Linked DNA regions of Homo sapiens: all the other regions are linked to region 2. Evidence: fine-mapped expression QTL. A gene starts in region 2. Each other region holds a variant in brackets. All regions are shown on one strand. Distances are between the middles of the regions.

The links. PIP is the estimated chance that this variant, and not a neighbour inherited with it, causes the effect. A credible set is the group of variants that fine-mapping cannot tell apart.
Region 1: its variant is the best candidate, but not a certain one, in a credible set for the expression of CXCL8 in spleen (GTEx, PIP 0.90).
Region 3: its variant is the best candidate, but not a certain one, in a credible set for the expression of CXCL8 in whole blood (INTERVAL, PIP 0.62).

The regions. Positions count from the first base shown.
Region 1 is chr4:74,582,683-74,588,827 of GRCh38, forward strand. LOC107986229 (a long non-coding RNA gene) reads right to left here and starts at 2,423. Exons shown (of 3, transcript XR_001741513.2): 1 at 2,331-2,423; 2 at 1,333-1,412. The variant T/C (reference allele first, on the strand shown) is at 3,199.
Region 2 is chr4:73,738,693-73,744,636 of GRCh38, forward strand. CXCL8 (C-X-C motif chemokine ligand 8) reads left to right here and starts at 1,877. Exons shown (of 4, transcript NM_000584.4): 1 at 1,877-2,030; 2 at 2,850-2,985; 3 at 3,257-3,340; 4 at 3,757-5,024. The coding sequence starts at 1,967. The coding sequence ends at 3,772. RefSeq lists a silencer at 340-634.
Region 3 is chr4:73,703,039-73,709,183 of GRCh38, forward strand. INKILN (inflammatory MKL1 (MRTFA) interacting lncRNA) reads right to left here. Exons shown (of 3, transcript NR_185098.1): 2 at 3,299-3,537. Among named protein-coding and RNA genes, the nearest start is that of UMLILO, 4.2 kb to the right of the region's middle. RefSeq lists an enhancer at 4,954-5,248. The variant T/C (reference allele first, on the strand shown) is at 3,284.

The sequences.
Region 1 (6,145 bases), 840 kb after region 2:
GTGATGGCTTTTTCAATGTAGCAGGAATGAAAGTGGTGAGACAGGAACATTGAGGATAAAATATCCAACTGAAATACTGTCTTGGATATCAGATTTATTTTGAAAGTAGAGCCAACAGATTTGCTTACCCATTTAATGTAGACCATGAGAGATATAAAAAGATAAGCCAAAAAGGACTTCAAATCCTGAGATAATAGATGAATTCAGTTATCATTTTGCTTAGATACATAAATCATGGGGATGAATAGTTGGGGAGATTATAAGTTAAGATCTCAACTGTGGACAAGTTAAGTTTGAAATGTCTATTCTGTATTCAAGTGGAGATGCCCAGTAGACAAATTTCTGAACTGAAGCTCAAGGGACCAAAACTGTAAATGTAAGTTTAGGAATTTATATTTAATAGATGACATTTACAGTCATGAGCATGGACAACCTAGGAAATGAGAAGACGAAGGTCTGAGCCCTGTGACACTTCAACACAGGCTGGGAAAGAGCTGTCAGTGAGGAAAGAAAAAAAAAATGCAAGTGTTTAACCCTAGATCAAGCCTTGCTCCACATGATAAATGATCACCTAATAATAAGTGTCATATGACAAGCTTGGCCTGTAGGAGTGGTGTTTGTTTTAGCTCTTTCAAAAGTGTCTCATGTGGGTTCCACAAGATGATAGTTGAAATCCTGGGTGTGGCAATGTTTAAAAATTTATTTTTAATCTTACTCCTTCTTCTTTATTCCCTGGACTGAGTAGGGACTAATCCAGCCATTTTCTATGCAAGTGTTTCTCACAATAAGCATGAAAATTTTCTGGGTGCTTATTGAAAAATGCACATTCCTGAGCTCCAACTCAGATCCACTGAATCAGAAACTCTGAGAGTAGCATGCTGGAACTTACATTTATAATAAGTTCCCAAGTGAGTTGCCATGCACATTAATATGGAAAACAATAAGCTATTCTTGTATTCTCACCTTGTCATAAAGAAGGAAAGGAGTTAATTGTAAAGAGTCAAATTTGGGGCATTATAATGGGACAAGGATCTTTTAGAGAGGATAGCTAAACAAATACTATAATCAGATATTGGCATTACCACTCCTGGCCACTCATTACTTTGTAAGTATCTATAGATAGTCTCATTTTGATGAAAATAAGGAATGCATAGTATTTTTTCTAAAGATATCTTGGCACCAAAGTGAAAATATCTTTGCAGGTGTTGTGTCACAACCAGAATTCCCTACTTCCATTTAGAAAAACATTATTTAAGCTATTGCCTGCAGAAATGTTGCAACATATTGTTGGCAAACAAATCTAGCAGCCATAGCATGGAAAGAGAAACTTACCCTTTTGATGAGCTGGTTTTGTAGATTCTCCTTTTACTGTTGAATCCAAAGGTGCCCTCTACTAGTGGATTCTGGTTTGACTAGATTAGAAAGATGAAAAGTTGAGAATGTATTTTAGCAAAGTTATTTTTGAGCAACTATAGAAATAATAGTTTCCACCATTTGTTGGTGTGTGTATGTGCCAAGCACTATAGTAAGGCATATACTATTTTATTTAATCTTTACAATAGTGCTGTGTTACAAATGAGGGAGTTGATTTTAGGAAGTGTTGCAAGCTGGGGAGCAGGTGAAATGGATCACAGTACACAGGGAATTTATTAAGGAGTGCCCTTTGGATCAAAACTAGTTGAAAGGAGAGAAGAGAAGCAGTAGTAGGCAGAGGGAGGGAGGGGAAGAAGTTGAGCTGTGATGCAGCCTCAAAGAAAGCCTCAACCAACCACAGGGAGTTCTAAAGCTGTAAGGGTCCAACAGAGTGGTCTCAGGTTGGGGAAGTATGGCCATGCCTTTACTACCCAGCATCAGTCAGTAATTAAAGGCAGACTATACTGAAAAAAGGCATGACTTGGGGTAAGGAGCTTATTTGCAGCTGAGGCAATGCCTGAAGCAGCAGAGGAGCCAAAGGTTGTCTGCAAAGAGCACTTTCAAGTTGGGGCAAAAGAGGGATCTGGCCATTGAAGAGGGATCTGGGAGGCCCATTACAGTGCCCACCTCAGGGAACCAAGATGTCAGCTAGAATGTGAGAAAGCTGAGAAGTTTAATGTAAGACAGTTTGATTCTAAAAGTAATTGTCTAAATCAGGCTAAAGAATTTCACACATGTATTTTCAAGCCAGAGGTGAGTTATTAGAAAATGAACAGTTGCTATCATCAGGAATCATTTCTATAGATTGCGTTCCAGGATAATGCACAGGAGTATCAATTAACTCTTATTTGGTCTTCATATTTTTTAAGTATTTCCTCATTTTGAACATGTGGCCAGGCCAGTATATATTTTCTTACCTTAAGACTTTTGCAGGACAGAAAAGACTTGATGCTTGGAGTGAAGATATCTTTCTAAATACTAAGTTCATTGAAGAAATGATGTCTGCCACCCTGATGGGGGATGGGGAGAGAAGAGAGGGAGAATGGCTGAGGGGAACTGAATGAGAGAATGGCAACACTTGACAAAAAAAGAGGGAAAGGAAGAAATGAATCCCAATTTAAAGCAAATCTCAGTGTAATATGCTACAGTTTGCTTGTCTGTCCCTCCAAATTTCATGTTGAAATTTAATCCTCAATACTAGAAGTGGGGCCTAGTGAGAGGTGGGACAGACCTTTCACAAATGGCTTCGTGCTGTTCTCATGGAATGAGTCAGTTTTTGCTCTATTGGGTCCCACAAGAGCTGGTTGTTAAAAAGAGCCTAGCACCCCACCCCCCAGCCCACCTATTTCCTCCTTTCTGGCCATGTGATCTCTGCACATGCTGGCTTCCCTTCACCTTCTGCCATGAGTGGAAGCAGCCAGAGGCCTTCACCAGATGCCCAATCTTCCAGCCAGAAGAATGAGGAGCCAAATAACCCTTTTTCTTTATAAATTACCCAGCCTCATATATTCCTTTATTGCAATGCAAAAATGGACTAAGACATAGTGGAAGGTGAAAGAACTAATTGCTATCAGAGGCAGTATCTAGGGAAGGTGATAAGACTTTGAGATGACTACCTGGTACCCCTGGGGATATAGAAACTAGGCGTCCAAGTGCCCATGCTTCAAAAACTATGACAACAGAGCCTGTGATGTGGAAGGGGCCATTCATTCTGGAACAACAGAAGACTCAACAAGTGTGGACTAATGAACAACGGCCAAGTGAACATCCCAGTACTGTGGTGCA[T/C]GCCCATGGGATGAGGAAACACCCTAATGAGGACTGAGATAGAATTTCTACCTACAAAAGTGAGATGTGGTCCCAGAGATGGATTTAAGTCTAGTTACAGAAATCTTAAAAATGAAAATTCTCATATTTCTGAGTTTTTAGCAGTAATATTGTCAGGAGAGATGTAATAAAAATAGGAAAAGATCATGGATGTCAGGCATGGCCAAGATTGTAATTGCCGTCCTTGTTAGAAAAAAAGGAAAAAGAACATGGGAAGGAAGAAGAGAATGAAAAGAGGAGGAGGAAGCAAGGAGGAGAAGGAAGAGGAAGTACCAGTAGTTATCTCTGTATGCTGGCTGATATCTTCCTCAGCATCAATCTACGCACTCCAAAGGGAATAGAAGTGACCAAAAGTGGTGGGAAGTGAGGGTGTCCAGGAGATAAATTGTATGTCTTGAAACACAAACTGCAGGAGGCAGGCTGCTGAGCAACTATGTAAACTACCCATATCGTGGCGAGAAGTACAAATGCTGGGGACCAGAGGAACTACTGTCCAAATACAGTCATTTTATTCTTTGACTGCTTTATTAGATGTTATACTTTTTTAAAATTGTCGAATGTTAGCAGGCACCTGTCCTTAAAGATAGAATCAAGCTGGCAGGCCTGGCCACTTGTCCCTTCTGATTCTCAAAGGAAAAGCATCACTGATGGGTAGAAATCTGTCTTTCCCTAAAAAAAGAAGGGCAAAGTACAGTAGCATGGAAGGGAATGAGAATTATAACTGTTTTGGGAAGAATTTTATTTGTGCTGCAAAAACATTACAAAATCCACAGGTCGACCATGCTGTTCTGCCTGTTCCCCTCCACAGCTCTATCTAGCTCTTGCCCCTTGTTTGTCTTAATTTCAATTATGTTATTTATTGTTTAGAATTTTTGTACTATGTAAGTTTAACTTCAAATTACTTTCATTAATTATGAAAAGTAACATTACAAACCTCTATATGGTCATCACCCAACTATATACAATCTTAACCTTTTGCTTATTGATATTTACTTCTTGTTTTGAAAAAGAAATGATGCACAGTATATTCAGTTAACACTCACTGTATACTCTTACCTTATTCTTCCCCTCTCTCCCCCAAAGTAATCCCTATCCTAAATTTTGTGTTTATCATTTCTGTGCATACTGTAATCCATAAATAATATGTAGTATTTTTTCATGTTTTAAAAATTACATAAAGAATATTATATTGTTCATACAATTCTACCACTCCTTTTGCTCCAAATTATTTCAGCTTTTTTTTTTTTTTTTTTGAGATGGAGTCTCACTCTGTCACCCAGGTTAGAGTGCAGTGGCGCGATCTTGGCTCACTACAACCTGTGCCTTCTGGGTTCAAGCTATTCTCCCGCCTCAGCTTCCCCAGTAGCTGGGATTACAGGCAAGCACCACCATACCCAATTATGTTTTGTATTTTTAGTAGAGACGGGTTTCACCACATTGGCCAAGCTGGTGTCAAACTCCTGACCTCGTGATCTGCCCGCCTCAGCCTCCTGAAGTGCTGGGCTTACAGGCATGAGCCACTGCACCTGGCCTATATTTAAGCTTTTTTGAGGTATAATTTATATATAATAAATTCCACTTTTAGGTGGTTCATTTTGACGAATTTTGATAATTATATCAATTGTTTAACCACCAATATAAGCTATAGAAAAATTCCTTCATCGGAAAAAGGTTTTTTGTGCCCCTTTGATCCCTGGTTCCTGTCCAGATCTTCCATGTAAGCATCAGGTAGAGGTGTAAGGAAAGAGTTGGCAGGAGAGTGCAGCCTTCTCCTATGGAAGCATACCACGCTAACACTCACTAGTAAGAATTCTATGGCAGCCATCTCTTCTCACTGCTGCGATAAATGTCCAACAGCTTGTTTCTGTCCTGCTGTCCTCAGAATGACCTGTCAACCTTGGGTCTTAGCTCACCAGGTGGCCTTGCAACCTCAGCTCACTAATGGGCTGCAAACATCATGATTTTGCAGACTCTCTGGTTTGTTCTCATTGTTAGAGTGGAAGGGGTTTTCTCTTGTGGCCTTCTTCATCTTAAGCGTAAGCCAAAGCTTCTTTAGATGGATAATAGTGGATATCAAACACTTTGTTGTGTAAATTATCTTGGGTGGAACAGTTTTATTTTAAATAGTCTATATTTATATTTGCACAAAGTTATGTATTGTGCAGTGGCCTGAATCTCCAGTGAAAAATTTTAGATCTCAATTTTAAGATGTGCTGGGTTTTTCAAAATTCTCCTAAGAGGTAAGCAGGTAAAAAGTAGGTAAAAATACTTATATCATGCACAACCCCTATAAAGCTTACATATTCCCAGATTCTAGTGGGAAATATAGGTTACCATATAGTGTCATACATTTTAGAAGAGAAGTAGTTTCAGAGAATTGTGAGAGAACAGAATATAAGTGTTTTGGTTAACCTCGGTATGCTGGGACTTCCGGGTTGATGCTTGGAAAAATAATTTCTTTCTAGTGCTCCATATCAGGCGTCAGCAAACTTTTCTGAAAAAGAACAGACAATAAACATTTTAGGTTTTGCAAGTCATATAATCTTTGTTGCAACTAATCAGTTCCCTTGTTATAATAAGAAAGCAGCCATAAACAGTATGTGAATGAATGGGTGCACAGTGTTTCAATAAAACTTTATTTACAAAAACAGGCAGTGGGCAGGATTTGGTGTACAGATCATAGCCTATAGACCTCCTCTCAATTGTGATCAATTACGTGTCCATCTAAAAACCATGTAATACGTAGTAAAGTTCAGAAATTGTCACGATGTGCAGTATATAGAGGTGAGTGACATAAGTATTCTGTCAAGAAACTCACAAACCAGAAGGCGAGAATGATGTGAAAATAAATAATTATAACAAAATGTATTAAGTGCTGTGAAGCATGTATACAACACAAAGCTAGGAT
Region 2 (5,944 bases):
AAGCAGTCCCATTGGTCTTTCTTCTCCTCATTAACAATAAAGGTAACACTTTTGATGTTGTTTCTTCAGAAAACCTTCATTCATCAAAACTGCCTCAAAGATCATGTTTGTTTGATTCCAGAACTTCCTGTAATTACCTGTTATTGTAACACTCATCACTGTATTTTACTTACTTGTGTAACTAATTTTCCATATTCTGCACTAGACAACAAAGTCCTTTAAGTCAGGTACTATATCTATTTACATAGCATTCACATCTCCTACAATAAGGGACATTAGCAGATAAACAACACATATTAAATGAATAATGAAGTTTCTGAAATACTACAGTTGAAAACTATAGGAGCTACATTATATAGAATAAACATTTACTTTGCTATAGAATTCAGTGTAACCCAGGCATTATTTTATCCTCAAGTCTTAGGTTGGTTGGAGAAAGATAACAAAAAGAAACATGATTGTGCAGAAACAGACAAACCTTTTTGGAAAGCATTTGAAAATGGCATTCCCCCTCCACAGTGTGTTCACAGTGTGGGCAAATTCACTGCTCTGTCGTACTTTCTGAAAATGAAGAACTGTTACACCAAGGTGAATTATTTATAAATTATGTACTTGCCCAGAAGCGAACAGACTTTTACTATCATAAGAACCCTTCCTTGGTGCTCTTTATCTACAGAATCCAAGACCTTTCAAGAAAGGTCTTGGATTCTTTTCTTCAGGACACTAGGACATAAAGCCACCTTTTTATGATTTGTTGAAATTTCTCACTCCATCCCTTTTGCTAGTGATCATGGGTCCTCAGAGGTCAGACTTGGTGTCCTTGGATAAAGAGCATGAAGCAACAGTGGCTGAACCAGAGTTGGAACCCAGATGCTCTTTCCACTAAGCATACAACTTTCCATTAGATAACACCTCCCTCCCACCCCAACCAAGCAGCTCCAGTGCACCACTTTCTGGAGCATAAACATACCTTAACTTTACAACTTGAGTGGCCTTGAATACTGTTCCTATCTGGAATGTGCTGTTCTCTTTCATCTTCCTCTATTGAAGCCCTCCTATTCCTCAATGCCTTGCTCCAACTGCCTTTGGAAGATTCTGCTCTTATGCCTCCACTGGAATTAATGTCTTAGTACCACTTGTCTATTCTGCTATATAGTCAGTCCTTACATTGCTTTCTTCTTCTGATAGACCAAACTCTTTAAGGACAAGTACCTAGTCTTATCTATTTCTAGATCCCCCACATTACTCAGAAAGTTACTCCATAAATGTTTGTGGAACTGATTTCTATGTGAAGCACATGTGCCCCTTCACTCTGTTAACATGCATTAGAAAACTAAATCTTTTGAAAAGTTGTAGTATGCCCCCTAAGAGCAGTAACAGTTCCTAGAAACTCTCTAAAATGCTTAGAAAAAGATTTATTTTAAATTACCTCCCCAATAAAATGATTGGCTGGCTTATCTTCACCATCATGATAGCATCTGTAATTAACTGAAAAAAAATAATTATGCCATTAAAAGAAAATCATCCATGATCTTGTTCTAACACCTGCCACTCTAGTACTATATCTGTCACATGGTACTATGATAAAGTTATCTAGAAATAAAAAAGCATACAATTGATAATTCACCAAATTGTGGAGCTTCAGTATTTTAAATGTATATTAAAATTAAATTATTTTAAAGATCAAAGAAAACTTTCGTCATACTCCGTATTTGATAAGGAACAAATAGGAAGTGTGATGACTCAGGTTTGCCCTGAGGGGATGGGCCATCAGTTGCAAATCGTGGAATTTCCTCTGACATAATGAAAAGATGAGGGTGCATAAGTTCTCTAGTAGGGTGATGATATAAAAAGCCACCGGAGCACTCCATAAGGCACAAACTTTCAGAGACAGCAGAGCACACAAGCTTCTAGGACAAGAGCCAGGAAGAAACCACCGGAAGGAACCATCTCACTGTGTGTAAACATGACTTCCAAGCTGGCCGTGGCTCTCTTGGCAGCCTTCCTGATTTCTGCAGCTCTGTGTGAAGGTAAGCACATCTTTCTGACCTACAGCGTTTTCCTATGTCTAAATGTGATCCTTAGATAGCAAAGCTATTCTTGATGCTTTGGTAACAAACATCCTTTTTATTCAGAAACAGAATATAATCTTAGCAGTCAATTAATGTTAAATTGAAGATTTAGAAAAAACTATATATAACACTTAGGAAAGTATAAAGTTTGATCAATATAGATATTCTGCTTTTATAATTTATACCATGTAGCATGCATATATTTAACGTAAATAAGTAATTTATAGTATGTCCTATTGAGAACCACGGTTACCTATATTATGTATTAATATTGAGTTGAGCAAGGTAACTCAGACAATTCCACTCCTTGTAGTATTTCATTGACAAGCCTCAGATTTGTCATTAATTCCTGTCTGGTTTAAAGATACCCTGATTATAGACCAGGCATGTATAACTTATTTATATATTTCTGTTAATTCTTTCTGAAGGCAATTTCTATGCTGGAGAGTCTTAGCTTGCCTACTATAAATAACACTGTGGTATCACAGAGGATTATGCAATATTGACCAGATAAAAATACCATGAAGATGTTGATATTGTACAAAAAGAACTCTAACTCTTTATATAGGAAGTCGTTCAATGTTGTCAGTTATGACTGTTTTTTAAAACAAAGAACTAACTGAGGTCAAGGGCTAGGAGAATATTCAGGAATGAGTTCACTAGAAACATGATGCCTTCCATAGTCTCCAAATAATCATATTGGAATTAGAAAGGAAGTAGCTGGCAGAGCTGTGCCTGTTGATAAAATCAATCCTTAATCACTTTTTCCCCCAACAGGTGCAGTTTTGCCAAGGAGTGCTAAAGAACTTAGATGTCAGTGCATAAAGACATACTCCAAACCTTTCCACCCCAAATTTATCAAAGAACTGAGAGTGATTGAGAGTGGACCACACTGCGCCAACACAGAAATTATGTAAGTACTTTAAAAAAGATTAGATATTTTGTTTTAGCAAACTTAAAATTAAGGAAGGTGGAAATATTTAGGAAAGTTCCAGGTGTTAGGATTACAGTAGTAAATGAAACAAAACAAAATAAAAATATTTGTCTACATGACATTTAAATATGGTAGCTTCCACAACTACTATAAATGTTATTTTGGACTTAGACTTTATGCCTGACTTAAGGAATCATGATTTGAATGCAAAAACTAAATATTAATCTGAACCATTTCTTTCTTATTTCAGTGTAAAGCTTTCTGATGGAAGAGAGCTCTGTCTGGACCCCAAGGAAAACTGGGTGCAGAGGGTTGTGGAGAAGTTTTTGAAGAGGTAAGTTATATATTTTTTAATTTAAATTTTTCATTTATCCTGAGACATATAATCCAAAGTCAGCCTATAAATTTCTTTCTGTTGCTAAAAATCGTCATTAGGTATCTGCCTTTTTGGTTAAAAAAAAAAGGAATAGCATCAATAGTGAGTTTGTTGTACTCATGACCAGAAAGACCATACATAGTTTGCCCAGGAAATTCTGGGTTTAAGCTTGTGTCCTATACTCTTAGTAAAGTTCTTTGTCACTCCCAGTAGTGTCCTATTTTAGATGATAATTTCTTTGATCTCCCTATTTATAGTTGAGAATATAGAGCATTTCTAACACATGAATGTCAAAGACTATATTGACTTTTCAAGAACCCTACTTTCCTTCTTATTAAACATAGCTCATCTTTATATTTTTAATTTTATTTTAGGGCTGAGAATTCATAAAAAAATTCATTCTCTGTGGTATCCAAGAATCAGTGAAGATGCCAGTGAAACTTCAAGCAAATCTACTTCAACACTTCATGTATTGTGTGGGTCTGTTGTAGGGTTGCCAGATGCAATACAAGATTCCTGGTTAAATTTGAATTTCAGTAAACAATGAATAGTTTTTCATTGTACCATGAAATATCCAGAACATACTTATATGTAAAGTATTATTTATTTGAATCTACAAAAAACAACAAATAATTTTTAAATATAAGGATTTTCCTAGATATTGCACGGGAGAATATACAAATAGCAAAATTGAGGCCAAGGGCCAAGAGAATATCCGAACTTTAATTTCAGGAATTGAATGGGTTTGCTAGAATGTGATATTTGAAGCATCACATAAAAATGATGGGACAATAAATTTTGCCATAAAGTCAAATTTAGCTGGAAATCCTGGATTTTTTTCTGTTAAATCTGGCAACCCTAGTCTGCTAGCCAGGATCCACAAGTCCTTGTTCCACTGTGCCTTGGTTTCTCCTTTATTTCTAAGTGGAAAAAGTATTAGCCACCATCTTACCTCACAGTGATGTTGTGAGGACATGTGGAAGCACTTTAAGTTTTTTCATCATAACATAAATTATTTTCAAGTGTAACTTATTAACCTATTTATTATTTATGTATTTATTTAAGCATCAAATATTTGTGCAAGAATTTGGAAAAATAGAAGATGAATCATTGATTGAATAGTTATAAAGATGTTATAGTAAATTTATTTTATTTTAGATATTAAATGATGTTTTATTAGATAAATTTCAATCAGGGTTTTTAGATTAAACAAACAAACAATTGGGTACCCAGTTAAATTTTCATTTCAGATAAACAACAAATAATTTTTTAGTATAAGTACATTATTGTTTATCTGAAATTTTAATTGAACTAACAATCCTAGTTTGATACTCCCAGTCTTGTCATTGCCAGCTGTGTTGGTAGTGCTGTGTTGAATTACGGAATAATGAGTTAGAACTATTAAAACAGCCAAAACTCCACAGTCAATATTAGTAATTTCTTGCTGGTTGAAACTTGTTTATTATGTACAAATAGATTCTTATAATATTATTTAAATGACTGCATTTTTAAATACAAGGCTTTATATTTTTAACTTTAAGATGTTTTTATGTGCTCTCCAAATTTTTTTTACTGTTTCTGATTGTATGGAAATATAAAAGTAAATATGAAACATTTAAAATATAATTTGTTGTCAAAGTAATCAAGTGTTTGTCTTTTTTTTAGTTTTAGCTTATTGGGATTCTCTTTGTTTATATTTAAAATTATACTTTGATTTAGAAAACATAAATGCTTCCCCTTAGCATTTTGTTTATGGAAAATTACAAACTTTTATTTTTAGAAAACAGAACTCCTTTCCAGAAATAGGTTACAAACAGTAGTGTCCTCCACAGAATGTTGGAAATGTTTTCAACTCCCCACTGTATACTATCTTGCTAATAAGTCTGTCTTCAGATTTCGATTAACCGGTTTGTATGTCTGTGCGCTTTAGCATAGCTGGACATTTAAAGAGGAAAGAGAGTACATATTATAAGTTGCTTATCAGTAACTGAGGAGTAAAACTGATAAATGTGAGGCAAAGAAGTTTAAAATATGGTTAAAGCCTAAGCATATTTGCAAACAAATCAAACAATACTCTGAGAAGTAAAAACATAATTATTTAATTAACAAATTTCAGTGGATAAATTTTATAACAAATTAGACACAGTTGAAAATAAAATTAGAAAACTAGAAAATAGAACCAAAGAACTTCTGGAATTCTTATAAGAGAGATAAAGAGGTAGAAATTTGGAGAAAGAAGTCGAAAGGCGTAGAGGATACAGGTGTAAGCTCTAATAGATGTCTAATTGGATTGTCACAAGCAGAAGAGAGAGGAAAGGGTCAGAGACAACATTTGAAGTGACAATGGCAAAAATCTTTCGGAAATGATGAAAAATAACAATCGATGTTTCAACAAATCCAATGTATCAACATTTACCTTTATATTCCTACTCAAAAAACAAGGATTTTGGAACTTTTACGTTTAACCACCTTCTAGCTCATAGGCTATTGTTGCTGGGTATTTTAAGTTCACTTCTTTTTTTTTTTCTTTTATTTTATTATTATTATATTTTAAGTTTTAGG
Region 3 (6,145 bases), 36 kb before region 2:
AAGGTCTGATTACCTTGCAGGTACTACTTCCCTCCAGGACAGCTCCCTCTCATCCTTTGCTCCTATGTCATTTGGCAGGCAAAGAGTTGGGGATAAAGGGCTAATACTGAGGTTAAAAGGAGGGAACCACTGGAAGTCCTGAGCAAAGGGGGTTTGGGGTAGAAGAAAAGAGTAGGATGAGGGGTATGAGGGTCCTTAACCAACTTTAGGGAGTTGACCAACTGAGTGAACTGAAAGTCAACAACTGTGATATTGCAACAGTATGAGAAATGTGTGCCCAAGGCAGTGACTAGGGTTCAGACACCACCCTGGACTCCCAAGTCATTCCTACCTTATATTTTTGTAATTCTTTCCAGATATTTGTCAAACTAAGATTTAGGCCATGTAGGACAAGGATTGATCTGTTCCCTGTCATCCTCAATGGGAACACAGTTCTGGAGGCTCCACATACATTCAGTTTACCGACTCTACAAGCACATGTTAAGCATCAAGTATCTGAATAGGGCTCTGAAAGCCACAGATAGCACAATTCTTTCTATCAAGGAGCTCACAGTGTGGCTGAGGAGGCAACAGGCTATCTGACAAGGAGAGTGCCAAGCCCTTCTCAGGATGTGGGATAGGTCTCAGGGATAGCCCCTGTCTTAAAGAGTATACCTATGAGTTAAAATACATAATCATGAAAGAGAAAACTGAGATGAAGGAGTGTTAGACTTGAAGTAAGAGTTTTGGAAAAAAATTCTAGGAGAAATAGTTGAAGAGCTGAGTTTTGAAAACGAGTAGTTATTATTGTTACATTGAATTTAATTATCTTTCTGAAAAAAAGTTTTCTTTAAATTTATATTTTTTTCTTCTCACAGCTTTTATAGTGTCGTGCTTTGAATCCAGTAAGTGCATAAGGAATTGGGGAAGGACGTTTGGGGAAGGGGCTGGAGTAGTTTTAAAGGTTAAGACTTCCAGAAGGGACATGTAAGCATACATATATAAGCATTTATTTCTTTCAAATATGACTTCTTGGGCAATTAATGGAATAACACTTTAATTAAAGTCCTTTTATGATAACATAGAGCAGTGGAGCATGGCTAGGAAAAATGAAGAATCATACTCTTTCCTATCTTGATTCTTCAATGGATTCTTGAAAAAGTGTAAGAAGAGGTAAACTCATTATTTGATAGTTTAGAAACCTAGCCAACTCTGCAGGCATTTATCAAGACATTTCAATTGTTTGGTTTTATGAAAGTCTTTGTTTCCATCATTATTGCAAAGAATAAACTTTTATTTGTTCACTGAAGAGTTTCTAAAGCGTTGGAATTTTAGCAGCAGGAAATTCATTTCTCAACTTGCACTTATCGCCTAAGAGGCATCAAATTGCTCATGAATTAATAGGCTAAAAGGCCTTATTGTTTCCTGGTGGGACTCTTTCACAGCGCTGGAGAAAACTGAATACCAAGTGTTGCTCATCATGTGTCTTGGGATATGTTACTGAGGGTCTGAGATTTACATAGAATTTATAGGAAGCAATGAAACCGAGTTAAGTAGAGAGGAATCTAGATCCTAGAACAATGCTGTGGAGTCAGAAGGCTGTGCCAACAGAACCTTTAGCTACTACTTCTTTCGCACATGCACTGAGTCAGAAAATGCTGTTTCATGGGCTGTAGCTACTTGTCAGGCCACTGACTCAACAAACTGAAATATTAGCCAAGTAAAATGTTGCGCAATTCCAGCTGCTCATTCATAGCACAATCTGTAGCCTCAGATTTGCCAGTCTTAGTCGACTAAGAGGAGCCGACATGAGGCAAAAGGAGAAACAGTCTGACCTTAGCTATAAAGGACAACAGGATGCCAGCACACTAGGGTCATGAGTGCTCTTTTCCTCTTTCATTGAATTGGCGGGCCCATGACTAATTTATGCAAATATGACATGGAAAATAATTTCTTGAAGAGAGCTGCTTTGTGCCAAATTCTCCCTGCTTTTCTTTTGGTCTGGTCTATGGATGATATTAGCTTATTTTAGGGTCAGGCTTCCAATTTTCCTGCAAGACAGGGCCAAGAAATGTTTATTTCACAAAGAGGCCAAGGTCTCAGATGCAAGACTACAACTGAGTGAGGCCCCAGAGGAGGATGACAATAGAAGATGGTTTCACTGGCATTCCATTCCTTTCTCCTCCCCACACCCAATCTCAGAGTGGCCATGGTTCACTGAAGGAATAGTAATTGTCATTTAAACCTGGGAACAGTGGTGCTTGGTACTTGAGGGGTGACTCATTTAAATTTATTCACGTTCCCACTGGAAAAACTCTCTTCTCTCAACTAACAGGATATGAATACCAATTCCCTAAGGTCATTAAGATACTAGAAGGAACTTTCATTATAATAAAATAAAGTATCTAGAAAAATTATTCTGCAATAGGAGAATGATAGTCCCTTGGTTCTATAGGAGCCCATTGTTGGTCAACAAGCGTTTCCAGGCATCGCTTACAGTCCCTCTGAATTCTACCTGCGATGCGGTCTAAACATACTGCTCCTCCACCTGCACTGTCTTGAACTGGGTGGCTCCATTTTTTTCCCTAGATTTCATTCATTTTCTTTTTCTCCATCTAGTTAGCTCTGTTGGCAGAGAATGTTTGTCCTAGAGTTTGTTCTCATTGGACTGCTTGGTGAAGGTGGTTCTTTTAACACAAGCTGTGGCTCTAGAAATGAAGCATTAAAGATCGAGTATTTATTCCTCATGGGCTAGACATCCTTTTCCATGTGTTGAACTGCTATAGCATTCTGTATTCAAGTAGGAATTCCCAGTAATTAGCTCTGGGTCCACTTTTATTGCTCCCAATCCATGTCTACTGGAAACACTGAGTTCTGAGCAATGACTAATGTCTGCATGCCCTGGTGAATGAATGATCATAAGTGAAGGTGGAGAGAAATAGCACTTCACAGGTGGAAGGGACCTAAAAAATAAATCTGCCCCATCTCTCTCAATTTCCTGATGAACAAAGAGATATTCAGAGAAGTTACTCATTCACAGTTGCTTGTTGGTGGTAGCCAAGTCTCTGATATCCACTTCTAAGGCACTGTTAGTTACACTATGATGTCTATTATCTTAACATTATGAAAAGGGTTGCAATAAAATATATTCAGTTCTACAAATAGTTATTGATTCTCTCCTATGTACAACTACAGTTTATCATATGCTGGTCACAGATGTCAGTGCTGGGGATACCCACAAAGTCTTTGCTCTCCTGGAGTTCACATTTAACCCAAGGATAGATTACAAGAAAAACACGATTTG[T/C]ATTATGGTTATGACCTTTAGTTGTCACACTATGCAATGAGATAATTTGCACTGGAAATGGCTGGCTGCATGTTGCTTTACAAGTGTAGTAAGCATGTTATCTTCTGTCTTCTGTGGCATTCCAGATTTAAAACTCTTCTGCTCCATGAGTGCATGCTTAGGGCCAGGTATCCTGTTTTCTGGTTCTGAAGATGTGGTCACAGTAATCATGGCACTTGGCAGGGTAGGCTGTTTAGAAGGCATGCAACAAGCAACTGGAGGAAACCAGAGAGAAAGCCAAAGAAGAAAGTTATCCAAAACCAGTTGGGAAAATTTGTTTTATACTATTTTAGATTATATATATATATATATATTTTGCTAAGGAGTTATAGTAAATCAGAGTTTTCTGTAAATATTTTTTGTAAAAAATTAATTACCTCATGAAATAGAAAATAAAGGAGTTGAGGGGAGCACTGAAGAGACTCCAGCAATGTGGCCACTGGAAGGCAGCTTCTCTGTAGAAAGGCCTTGCCTTAACCCTGGTAAAATAACCCCTCAGACCTTTTTTGCCTTTGATTTCAAGCTTTTTTCAAAAAAAAAAACAACAAACAAAAAAAACCCACAACATTCTACTGACTGGATTACAGCGTAGAACGCTGGCATTCTGAAGGTTTTAAATAAAATATTACTAATGCCACTATATATATAAACCAAATTGTCTGAATTCTTCTAGGCAGCAACTGTGTCTATAACAGTGACTTGATAATTTAGACAAAAGTAATCCATCAAAGAAAAGTTATCCATGTGTTCCACATATGCCATGCTAAGTAGTCTGTCCTCCACAGACAAGACCTAGTCCTTGCCCTAGGGTAGCTTATATCCAGATGGAGAGACAACATGAGATAGATACTCCTGGTCAGATATTCTTAGTAGCAAATCAGACTAAAGGCCACAGTAAGTCCAGAACCTTAGTTTCCAACGACATAAATGCAGAAAACTTGTACACTCTAACTCATTACACTGATGTGATGATTATAATATGCATAAAGATGTCTAGATTACAGACTTTTGAGAAGTCACAATCAGGATCCTATTTGAGTTAAGTAGAATATCTGATTAAAACATCTATGTTGAGTACCTACTATGTGGCATATAGTAGGTGCTCAGTATAGATGTTTGCTAGCTATTTAATTTGATTGATCCCATGAGGGCTCACATTTCATGATGCTTTACAGCACAGGTCCCCAGTCCCCGGGCCTGGACCAGTGTGTGACCTATTAGGAACCAGGATGCACAGCAGGAGGTGAGTGGCGGGTGAGCAAGAAAAGGTTCATTTGTGTTTACAGCTGCTCCCCATTGCTTGCACTACCATCTGAGCTCCACCTTTTGTCAGATCAGCTGTGGCATTAGATTCTCATAGGAGCACAAATCCTCCTGTGAACTGTGCATGGGAGGGATCTCGGTTGCATGCTCCTTATGAGAATCTAATATCTGATGATCTGTTACTGTCTCCCATCATCTGCAGATGGGACCATCTAGTTGCAGGAAAACAAGCTCAGGGCATCTACTGACTCTACATTATGGTGAGTTTTATAAGTATTATCTCATTATATATTACAATGTAGTAATAATAGAAATAAAGTGCACAATAAGTGTAATGTGCTTGAATCACCCCTAAACTATCTCCCTACCCCTTGTCTGTGGAAAGATTGTCTTCCATGAAACTGGTCCCTGGTGCCAAAACGGTTGGGAACCGCTGCTTTATAGCACTCAAGATAAGCAAAGTGCCTGCAGCCAAGGATGTGAGTCACCAGAACTAGGTGGAAGAACCACTCTGAGAAAGAAACTGCTAGCACAGGAAAGCAAAAACGACTTCCTCTTGCAATCGTGTCTTAAGAATTTCTGTTAGAATTTTCTTTTCCATTTCTTTCTCTTTTTTATTTTCTTTATAAACTTTTAAAGCCAGTTTCACAACTTGCATATAAAGAATGTCAGCTGCTTTATTAGTGGTGTTCCACTTGGCACTTATAGGGAAGCCGGGCAGTCCCGGTTCTTAGGATAAACACACTTTATAGTGGATTTTCTTTATCCAGCCCAGCAGGCTGGCTCTTTCCTTGGGAATAATATTGGGCATGTGATTGTTCCATCTTCAGATCCTGTATCAACCCGCACATGCTCTTCCAGCTTGCAGCTTTCAAAACCAAAGACATGGCTCCCAAACTAGCTACTTTCCAAATCTATTTTAATGAAGGTGCTTCAGGGAGCTGATGATACCAATCCACAAAACAATTTCACAGGGAGAACTGGGCCCATTGTCTCAGCTCTGTGTCTTAGTAGCTTTGCAAAAGATCATTTCCCAGAGCCTGAGTTTCCAATGACATAAATGCAAACAATTTGTAAAATCTAACTCATTACACTGATGTGGATGATTATAATATGCATATTGATGTCTAGATTGCTGACTTTTGAGAGTATAATAAAGCAAATGTTACAAAGAAGGTGAAAATGCAAATATATATTAAGAATCTGCTTTAAGCTAGGCATGTGCTGGCTTTATATATGGTTCTATTTATTTGATTTTTAATACAATTTTATAAGAAGAGAGTATTAGTTATATTTGATAGGTAAAATAATGAGGACTCAGTTATTCAGAGTCACACAGGCAGCAAACAGAGGGATTGGGATTCTACTTATAAACGATTTGACTTTATACCAGTGCTCTTTCAACTGGACTAGGTGGCTGCTGCCACACAATAAATCACACCATCAGAGAATCTTCTAGGTAACTGTTTCACTAAAATGCAATTTCTCTGAACAAAGAACGACAATTTTTGGCCAGGAGAGACATTCTGAGACTATACAAAAGTATACAAGGATCACTTA